Homo sapiens: one gene and its partner. The protein of the gene in region 1 interacts with the protein of each later gene in a biochemical or structural test. Each region holds a gene or a part of one and is shown on either strand. Other genes may lie near its edges.

The links.
Region 2: the proteins of WDR48 (region 1) and NMRAL1 form a complex in vitro, tested with the Homo sapiens proteins (one study listed by BioGRID).

Annotation. Positions count from the first base shown.
Region 1 is NC_000003.12:39,062,003-39,069,300, forward strand, and holds part of WDR48 (WD repeat-containing protein 48), read left to right. Parts: intron 1-1,047; coding exon 1,048-1,188; intron 1,189-3,808; coding exon 3,809-3,887; intron 3,888-4,545; coding exon 4,546-4,628; intron 4,629-4,743; coding exon 4,744-4,873; intron 4,874-4,954; coding exon of another isoform or gene 4,955-5,068; intron 5,069-6,768; coding exon 6,769-6,857; intron 6,858-7,298. UniProt on the Homo sapiens protein: Regulator of deubiquitinating complexes, which acts as a strong activator of USP1, USP12 and USP46. Enhances the USP1-mediated deubiquitination of FANCD2; USP1 being almost inactive by itself.
Region 2 is NC_000016.10:4,461,062-4,464,791, forward strand, and holds the end of NMRAL1 (nmrA-like family domain-containing protein 1), read right to left. Parts: intron 2,790-3,730; coding exon 2,599-2,789; coding exon of another isoform or gene 2,581-2,598; intron 2,452-2,580; coding exon of another isoform or gene 2,416-2,451; exon of another isoform or gene 2,359-2,415; intron 899-2,358; coding exon 719-898; 3' UTR 633-718; downstream 1-632. UniProt on the Homo sapiens protein: Redox sensor protein. Undergoes restructuring and subcellular redistribution in response to changes in intracellular NADPH/NADP(+) levels.

The DNA of each region.
Region 1 (7,298 bases):
CCCTTTGTCAGATGGGTAGATTGCAAAAATTTTCTCCCATTCTGTAGGTTGCCTGTTCACTCTGATGATAGTTTCTTTTGCTGTGCATAAGCTCTTTAGTTTAATTAGATCTCATTTGTCAATTTTGGCTTTTGTTGCCATTGCTTTTGGTGTTTTAGTCATGAAGTCTTTGCCCATGCCTGTGTCCTGAATTGTATTGCCTAGGTTTTCTTCTAGGGTTTTTATGGTTTTAAGTCTTAACATTTAAGTCTTTAGTCCATCTTGAGTTAATTTTTAACTGTTTATTTCATTACATTAGAAAGTTTTACTTCTGGCTGCCAGCCAGCTTATTGACTTTTTCTTAGGTGTAATTGTTTTCAGTTGATCCCCTGTTTTCACAAGGAACAGACAGAGGTCACCAACAGTAACAAAGTAGGGGAAAATGCCCTGAAGAAAAAGTTTAGTATGTGATAGGAGCTCAAAACCTCATTTTGCTTGGCAAGTCAGGGAAGGCCTTCTAAAGGAAGTATTGTTTAAATGGAAACCTGAAGGCTGCAACAAGAGTTAGCCAGACAGGTCGGAGGAAGAGCTTCCAAACAGAGAGGACCAGCATGTGTGATGGTCTGGAGGCACAATGCACCAGAACCTGGAGCAGAGATGAGTGGCCAGAAAGACAAACAGGGTACTTGAGACCATGTTAAGGAATTTACATCCAATCATGAGTCTAGTAGTCAGCAACTGGAGGTTTTTGAGCAGAGCTGAGATAGATTTTTAAATAATTACTCTAGCTGCTTTGTGAAAAATGGACTAAAGACTGGGAAAGGAGTCCAGTCAGGAAGCAGTTATAGTAGTTTAGCAACTTACTCATGTTGGACTAGGCTATCATTGATACCATCCTTCTCTTCAGCCCTTTAGTCTTTAAGGAGTAAAATTTAAATTTGTATTGGGTTGAAAAAGTACATATTGGAAAACATGGGATTTTCTGTTTCAGATTGGCCACTAGTAGACTATATTTTATTACTGCATGGCTTGTACTTTATAAAAAGCATATGTTGACACATTTGTCAGGTTTCCTATGTTATTCGAGATGAAGTGGAGAAGTACAACCGAAATGGAGTCAATGCTCTGCAGCTGGATCCAGCACTAAATAGACTTTTCACAGCCGGTCGAGACTCTATCATAAGAATATGGAGTGTCAATCAGCACAAGGTAATGCAGGGATTAAAATCTGTACCCAGCAAATTCTGGACAAATGGCTTTTACTGTCTAATATGACACTTTTCACAGTTTCAGATTTAATCTCTCTGAATGCTGAGTTATTTGGTACACTCTATAAAGACATCGCAACCAGAATTCTGTAAGCCTCTGAGAAAAACCATCCCTAGGAAAGTTTCAGAAGTGTTTCAGCTAAGACAAGGACTCCCTAAACTAGGTTTGCCTTACAGAGTTCTTTGCCACAAAGGAACAAAGTGATTTGGCTAGTAGGGGGATTACTTTCAACAATTAATTTTTTTGCTTTAAATATGTTCCCCAACAACCTCTTGGTAACCTTACTAAAAAAAGATTGAATATTCTTTTACATTTCTAATTAATCTTGAAAAAATATTTTATTTTCCTCACTTAAAAGTAATTAGGATCCTCACAAACCCCACACGGCCTAACTAGGTAATACAAGGTTAGGCTGAGCATGGTGGCCCACACCTGCAATCCCAACAATTTCGGAGGCCAAAGTGAAAGGATTCCTTGAGTCCAGGAGTTCGAGACCAGCCTGGGCAATGTGACAATACCCTGTCTCTGCAAAAAAAAAAACTTAAAAATTAGCTGGGCATGGTGGCACACACCTGTAGTCCCAGCTACTCGGGGAGCTGAGGTGGGAGGATCACTTGATTGAGTATGGGAGGTTGAGGCTGAGTGAGCCGTGATCACACCACTGCATTCCAGCTTGGGCAACAGAGGGAGACCTTGTCTCAAATAAATAAATAAAGATAATATAAAATTGGTGTTAAAACTATGAAGACAACATGCTCCCCTTCAAAGATTTCCCTTTCTTAAGCAGGGAACAGGGTTTAAATATGTGTAAAGATAAATCCCCAGGCAAATGGTAACGAGCCCTTTTAGTATTTTGTTGGAACACCTATATTGTGAATGACAGAGAAAAGAAGAATCAGGGAAGAAAAAAAGAGCATTTATTGATCTTCTAATTATGTGCCATACGCTCTTTGCATTTTCATATCCAATGTGATTTTAATTTTCAGTGTCCCTCAAGGTACCTATTAGGATCCATTTTCTTTTTTTTCTTTTTTTTTTTTTGAGATGGAGTCTCGCTCTGTCACCCAGGCTGGAGTGCAGTGGCGCGATCTTGGCTCACTGCAACCTCTTGACTCCTGGCTTCAATCAATTTTCCTGCCTCAGCCTCCTCAGCAGCTGGGACTACAGGCACACGCCACCACATCCAGCTAATTTTTATAATTTTAGTAGAGACGGGGTTTCACCATGTGGGTCAGGCTGGTCTCAAACTTCTAGACTCAGATAATCCAACTGCCTTGGCCTCCCAAAGTGCTGGTATTACAGGCGTGAGCCACCGCGCCTGGCCAGATCCATTTTCATAGATGAGAAAATGGGCTCAGAGAAACCCATGGTTATGTGGCTAGGAAGTGACAGAGAATTAGTACCCAGCCCAACTTGAAAACCCTAGTGCTAGACCTTGTATTTTTAAAAGTTTGTGTCTTTTTAGCAAGTTTTACAAGTCTGATATTCAGTTCAGAAAAAGAACCACTACTTTATGCGCCTATAACTTCAGTCTGGCAGGCTTTGAATTCTTTAGCCAATGGACCATGCAGTGGTGGCCAAATGTCAAAAGCATGAAAAGTAAGAAAACTATGTTTGGCTTTGAAATGCTTTTTGGTACTTATAATTGAATTGGAATGTCTCCTTTCTGAGCATTCACAGTATTTCAAACAAATTAAGAAAAACACCCAAAAGAACTAACCTGAAGAATCTGGAAATCTGCCTGTCTTGCCCCAAACATCTTTTTTCTGGTCTTCCTTTTATGACAAGATTGAATAGCATTATTTGTCAAACAGACTTGTACAGAGCTGTTCTGTTTGCCCATAAAGTGTCTCAAACTTGCCTGTTTTAGGTGTAGGATGTAACTAAATACTGTTCTTTAAAAGGCCTCTCCTGGTTATTAAGCCAGGTAAGAGAAGTAGAATCTCGAATCACCTAATTGAAATGGTGACACAGGTTGTCCTTTCTCAGCCGTTGGGTTTCCTTTCATCTCTGAAGGCCTGTAGGTACCATGAGGAAAACATTTAATTCAGAGGGTGAACCCAACAGTAGGAAGCTGAAAGCAGAAGTGTTTATCTCCCTCTGCATTCAGACCAGGCTCCTTAGTGCACTCATCAGACTCATTGCTGCCCCTGCTGTCTGCTGTTGAGCCTTCACCACCACTCATTCAAATCCCCACAGCCTACAGATTCCTACAAGTCATGTCCTTTCTAGTGAACCCTTTTTAAAGGGTTTTATGTCACACACAGTGCCTAGTCCAGAGCTTGTTGCCTTCACTTTAACAAGGCAAAAAAAAAAAAAATGAAGTATTTGTCCTGGAAACCTAAGCTTTCAGTAAGAGTAAAACTGTCCTGAAACAAAACTGTTTACATCTGTTATCTGGAAGCATCACCTATTTGGTGAGATTCTACTCAGAATTCAGGTGTTAGTTTTAATGCCTAGAGCAGTATGTCACATTAATTGAAGAATTTAACCATATCTATCATTTGTAATATATTTCATTCTCTCATATAAACTCTTAGGATTTTTCTTTTAATTTCAGCAAGATCCATATATAGCATCTATGGAACACCATACTGATTGGGTAAACGACATTGTACTCTGTTGTAATGGGAAAACATGTAAGTATTTCTTTGGATTATTATTGGGCTTCTGATATATTTTTTGTTTTTTATATAAGCTTTTTTATTGAAACATACATACAGAAAAGTACACACACTTCGAGATTGCAGTTCAACACAATTTTAGAAAGTGAATACCCAAATCAAGAAACAATATTACTAGAAGCCCTCTTGTGCCACCCTTTGCCACCCTTTCAGTTATTCCCTCTTGCCCCAAGGTAACTGCTCTTCTGTCTTCTGAACACCAAAGGGTAGTTTTGCCTTCATTTGAACTGTATATAGACTCGTACTATATGTATTCTTCTTTTAGCCTTATTAATACCTCTTTTTGTTCTAATTTTGGTGAGATCCATTCCTTGGTTTTGCAGTCCGAGTTACAGGAATTTTTCTCAATCACATTAGTTGAGCCTTCAACTGGAACATTAAAAATGTTTGCACTGCTTGTTTTAAAAATATATTTTTTTCTTTGAACATGTGTCTTGAGATTTTAAAAAATTGAGGCAATATACAATAGGTTCTAGAAAGAGCTTTTAGGTATGTTTGTGTGTGTAAGAGAGAGAATATGTTAGTTTGAAATAATGTTACATTGTTGTAAGATAAGTTTTCAAAGTTTTAAGTCATACTACTAAGGAGTTTGTTAATTCTTTGCTTCTTCTAGTAATATCTGCTTCTTCTGACACGACAGTAAAAGTATGGAATGCACACAAGGGATTTTGCATGTCAACATTAAGGACACATAAGGTAAAACAATACAGTTCTCAGTGTCTTTAGTGTAATATTGGGATCTCAGTACTTTGTGTGGCTCATTTTATTACTGATCTACAGAATAGATCATAGTATGTCTGTTCTATTACAGGATTACGTAAAGGCCTTAGCATATGCCAAGGATAAAGAACTAGTAGCATCAGCTGGGTTGGACAGACAAATATTCCTTTGGGATGTGAATACTCTAACAGCATTGACTGCCTCAAATAACACTGTCACAAGTAAGGTGTTTAAAAGAAACTTCTTTGAAAGTGATCCAAGTTAACATAAATAAAGAATGGTTTATAAAACATTTTTGATAGGTTTGCATCGAGAGAGTGTTTCATATTTTGAGAGTGCTTCTACCTACAGCGTTCTGGCCCCCAAGAGTATGATTGAACAACAAAGAGCTAGTTCCTCACTGCAGTCTAAAAATGGTAACTTCTCCAGGTATAACCTGGTTATTTTTTGTACGTGTGCATGTCTTAGCTCCCTAGCTAAAATGTAAGTCCCTGCAGGGTAGAGGAGACTGTCTTACTACTTCGTATCTCCCACAGCATTCCCTGGTCCAAATCCATACACTCAGCAGGTATTATTGAAGGAGGTGGCGATTTTCTGACAAAGTAGGCGGTTTTCTGACTTTTTAAAGTGTTAAGAGCTTTTGAGTTAATAGCCAAGATGAAAAATACCCAGGAGAAAGAAAGAAAAGGTTTCCAGTGCCAGTTTATCAAATTTTCTGCCTTTTAGAGCAGCCCTGAGGAATCAAGCCAATTCCAGAAGAGCCAGAACGGTAGAGTGCTTCTAGAGGCAATCCAGAGATGTTCACAGCATGGATGATTCATCAGCTAAGAGATCTCAGACTACCAAGTCAGGCTCATACAAGTCTAGATTTGAAATTGAGCTTCATGCTTGGCCCAACCTAGTAGAGTCCTCTAGGCCAGGTTTCAGAAGGGACTGTTAGGAGCACATTTTTGGCTAGGCCTGACCTGGAAAGTCTACATTGAAGACATGGGCCTGCATTCTCTGGATCCCTACATTATAGGTCCATTTTATAACGACTCTGTGGAGTGTTCACATTGACATAGACAATACAGTTTTACTAATATAGCCTAGTATGTGCCAAGAAGGGTAAGTTGGGAGACTTGTGTTTATAATCTCTTGATTGTTGTTTTGCCTTGTTTTCCAGGAAATATGTGAAGGTCTCAACATTCTTTTTCCCTTGTTCTTGATTTTTCACCTGTACATTATCTCTGATTCATTAGCTGGTCCCTGTTGGGGCTGTCATGGTACATCATTAGGTTTTAAGTCTGGATGTAAGGCCTGCCTCAAAGAGACACTAATGGGAGGGAACAAAGCAAAAAAAAAAAAGCAGGTTGTCACAAGGTCAGGGCCCAGGCTTAGTGGATACAGATTCTGCTACATCTTGCTTAGAGTTGTTTAGAGAGGATATCACACTTTTTTTTAATACATAATAATAAAAATAATACTAATAATGGCTAACCTGTATTGAGTACTTGCTACAAGTAGACATTTTTCTAAACAGTACATGTAGTAACTCATTTACTCAACTTTTTAATATGTTTGTAAAATTGGGTTCATACTATATAGACAGTTTCATATACATCTTTTTTACTTCAGTGATACTGAGAGTATGAACATGATTTTTGCTATAGTCTGAATTCCTTCCTGAAAGGTTGTACCTATTTATCTTCACATAAGTAATATATGAGAGTTCCATTGTACTGTTTTCTTTTTACAATCAAGTATTACCTTGTTTTTTGTCTTGGTGTATGAAACAGTGTTTTTGGTTTGATTTGTGTTTGAAAAATACTGAAATTGAACATTTTTTCATATTTATGGCACATGAATAGCTTTAAACATATCATTTAAGCGGATAGCTTTTCAATGGCACTGCAGTTTATCAGATATTGAGCATTTGTATATATTCAAATCCAGAAAATATGTAAATTTTGATAATAATACTGTTTAGATTTATCTCCATTATAGGTAGATTTCTTTTCCGTAGAGGACTTATAAAGATAAGATTTTCTAAATTGAATAAACTTGCAGTTTTTGCTGACTAGTTACTAAACAGCTGATGATCTTGTTAACATTTAGCTCCGTTTATCCTCAATAGCTTCTTCTTTAAGTGGAAACAAAGATTCCATTTATAGCCTGGCCATGAATCAACTGGGAACAATCATTGTATCAGGGTCCACTGAAAAGGTAAGGAGGAGCTTATTTCTTTATTTAAAAAAAAAAATTATTTTTCACATACCTTGTCTCCTATTTTTTAAGCAGGTATTTTACGATTAGCTTCTTTATATTTATTTATTTAGAGACTGGGTCTCACTCTGTCACCCAGGTTGGGGTGCAGTGGCATCATGATCCTGGCTCACTGCAGCCTTGACTGCTGAGGCTGTAGCGATCCTTCCACCTCAATCTCCTGAGTAGCTGGGACCCCAGGCACACACCATCACGTGCATCAGGCCACTCCTTGTCCCATCTGGCTAATTTTTGTATATTTTTAATAGAGACAGGGTTTCGCCATGTTGTCCCTCCAACTCCTTAGTGCAAGCAATTCACCTGCCTTGGCCTCCCAGAGTGCTGAGATTACAGGCATGAGAGCCACTGTGCCCCAATCGGGGGAGCTTAAAGGGTGGTTTG
Region 2 (3,730 bases), on another chromosome or scaffold:
ACATCCGATTTTCCTTTTTCCAACCTGTTTGAAGTTCACCTGTGTCCAGGATGGTACCCCAAGGCCGGCTCCTTCCAGGACAAGGATGAGGAGAGAAAGGGAGAAGCCCATATCTCCCCCGCCTCCCTGCAGAGCCTGTCTCCAGTTCACATGTGCAGATGGCCTCACTAGCTCTGGAGATGAAAGGGGTGTGTCAGAAGCTCGGCTCCTGGGGCTCCTCTGTGTCCTGTGCTATGTCCCCGTCTGTGAATGAATTTCAAATGTGGGAACAGAGGCTGCTGGTCAGAGCTGTTCTGCTAGCTGAGGTCAGAACAGGCCACTTCACACCTGTCTGACTAAACACGTTTAGGTCACTCGTCCCAGTCACCAAGTGATCCCTTCAGCCTTGGACCCTCCCTTACTGCTGTGTTGGTACAGCCCTGGAGCCACCCCTTACTGCTGTGTTGGTACAACCCCGGGTCCCCTCACTTACTGCTGTGTTGGTACAGCCCTGGACCCCCCCCCCCCGCTCCAACTTACTGCTGTGTTGGTACAGCCCCGGACCCTCCCCAACCACTTACTGTTGTGTTGGTACACAACTACCACCCCAACCCAAGTCCTGGAAGCAGAGTCCTCTTCTCCTGGAAGCCATCTGGGAGAACAATGGCTTTATTCAGATGTTGGTGCCTCTGCCCCTCTGGTGCCCCCGATCCCCACAAGGGGCCGCGAGGCGGGCAGGTCACAGCAGGTTGAAGTCCCCTTTGTGCTGTTCCAGCCACTGGTCCAGCGTCAGGGCCTTGGGGTTGAGTCTCAGGGTCAGCTCGATGTCACGGTCGGGTCTCAGGGCATAGAAACGGAACATGTTGGCCAGGTCCCGGGCACCGGGAAAGCCAAGCTTTTCGTAGTCCTCAGGAGTCATCTGGAAGCAGAGGAGCCTGTCGTGGCCGGCGTCCTCCAGTGCCCCGGGAGGTGGCGGGGCAGGGAGGCCGGATGGGCTGGGGTCTCCCGACCTGCTACACCCAGAGCCACTATTGTCTCGGTCCCTGACCCAGGTCCTCCGTACAAGGTCATTTGAAAACTTCTAAGAGCCGAAAGTTCAGAAACTGCTGCTCTCCTGAGCTGCCTGACATTGTAGATCAGTTTAAAGATTGTTCTTGGCCAGATGCTGTGGCTCATGCCCGTAATCCCTGCACTTTGGGAGGCTGAGGCAGGCAAATCTCTTGAGGCCAGGAGTTCGAGACCAGCGTGGCCAACACGATAAAACCCCGTCTCTTTCAAAAATACAAAAATTAGCCAGCCTGGTGGTAGGTGCGTGTAATCCCAGCTACTTAGGAGGCTGAGACAGGAGAATCGCTTGAAACCAGGAGGTGGAGGTTGCAGTGAGCTGAGATCACCCCACTGTACTCCAGCCTGGGCAACAAGAGTGAGACCCTGTCTCAAAAATGAATAAATAAAAAGACTATTATTTTCAGATCATGAGACGAAAATATCTCAGTCCCTTCCAAATCAGAGACCTGCCTGCATCACTTTCTTTCTCAAAAACCAAAGCTTGACCAGACACAGTGGCTCACACCTGTCATCCCAGCACTTTGGGAGGTGGAGGTGGGAGGATCGCTTGAGCCCAGGAGTTAGGCCCACCACGCCGGGCTAATTTTTTGTATTTTTAGTAGAGACGGGGTTTCACCGTGTTAGTCAGGATGGTCTCGATTTCCTGACCTTGTAATTGCCCGCCTCAGCCTCCCAAAGTGCTAGGATTACAGGTGTGAGCTACCGCGCCTGACCCAACTTTCGTCTTTTAAGGACTCCAGTGTTTCCCAGATTCTTTTTTTTTTTTGGAGTTGGAGTCTCGCTCTGTCGCCCAGTCTGGAGTGCAGTGGCATCTCGGCTCGCTGCAAACTCTGCCTCCTGAGTTCAAGCGATTCTCTTGCCTCAGCCTCCCAAGTAGCTGGGATTACAGGCGCCTGCCACCACACCCGGCTAATTTGTTTATTTTTAGTAGAGATGGGGTTTCACCCTGTTGGCCAGGCTGGTCTCAAACTCCTGACCTCAGGTGATCCACCTGCCTCGGCCTCCCAAAGTGCTGGGATTACAGGCGTGAGCTACTGCACCCAGCCTCCCAGATTCTTTAATGAGTATGTCTTACTTTCCTAATGGTAATGACAAACATTAGAAACCAGGTACCCAAGAGTCTGTCCAGTAGGCCTCCTGCCCACCCAGCCAGGCCAATGGGGGCAGGGGTCGGCCCTATCTTTCTAGCCTCTTTCCCTTTAAATCCCCTCCCACAGGGGAGGGGTCGGGTCTATCTTTCCAGACTCTTTTCTCTTCAAATTCCCTCCCACAGAGGAGCCCGGCAGGGCCTGCATTTTCACCCCTCCTTGCCTTGGCTCCTATGGCCCTCTCCTCCTGGAAGCTTTTCTCTCTATTTGGTCAAAACATCTAAGCCAGAAATTTCACTCTGTGGCCAGTTAGCTCCTGGAACAGCAGAAAATAAACGTTGACGATGAACGAATGAATTTAGATGTACTGCCCAGAGGTGTGGGCAGCCCTGGACACACCCTCCCTACGGGAGCTAGAAAGCCCTGACAAGGATGCCTGAGTCACCTGGGGCGGGAGGCCCACCTTGGCATCGTGCACGACCTTGCGGGTGTGCTTGGTGAGCAGGGCAGCGTACTCCTCGGCCGTGTGCCTGCAAGTGCTCAGCCCGATGTTCTGGCCGACGTATTTTTCTGGCATCTTCAAAAGGCTGAGCACCACAGGACCCAGGTCAGACACGGACATGCCATCCATGGGAACGTCACCTGTGGGCAAGCCTGTGGGGCAGAGACGTGAGCTGGTATATGTCCCGAGGGCAGACAGGGGCAGGGACAGAGCCCCTCTCCAAAGGGTCCAAGCTGGTTCTTCCCAGCAGTCAGCTGCACACTCCAGCACTCGGGCATAGCTAAGACAAGTCTTGCTATTTGTGGTAGCACAGAGGCAGCAGTGGAATTGAGTCAGGAAACGGGATGGAATCCGGGTACTGCCACCTAGGGCAGGCTGTTGAGGCTCTCTGAGCCTGGGTTGCTGCATTCCTAGAATGGGGCTAAGAACCTGGGCCTGCCCAGCTCTCTCAGCGCTAGGATGACAGAGAAGGGACAAAGGAAAAGGACTCTGAAAGCTGCTACAGAGAGTGTGGCTGGAGCCCAGGGTCTCCGCTAATCTGGAGGCACCAGCCTGAAGTACTCTGTCATATCCTAGATTCCTGGAAGCTGGAACGTCCACCTCTGAGTAGATACTCCAAATACCAACTCACTTACCAGGAATCCTGATTAACCAGACACCAACGGCTGGCCTAGAGCAGCACGTCCATGATAAATGCTTCATAAATCCTGAATGAATGAATGACTCGCAAACTTCCAGGCTGAGGTTTTGTAGATGGGGAGGCTGGCAACTGTCTGGGTGTGGCCTGTGGAATGCTTGGGTCCTATCCTCCTTACCTAGAGACAGGGGCCAGTGCAGCTTCCTGTTCAGATCACCTGGGAGCTCGAGGGCACAGAGCGCACAGACCGGAGCAGGAGATATCCCTGACTGCAGGTTTTTTTTTTTTTTTTTTTTTGAGATGGAGTCTCGCTCTGTCGCCCAGGCTGGAGTGCAGTGGCGCAATCTTGGCTCACCACAAGCTCCACCTCCCGGGTTCACACCATTCTCCTGCCTCAGCCTCCCGAGTAGCTGGGACTACAGGCGCCTGCCGCCACACCCGGCTAAGTTTTTGTAT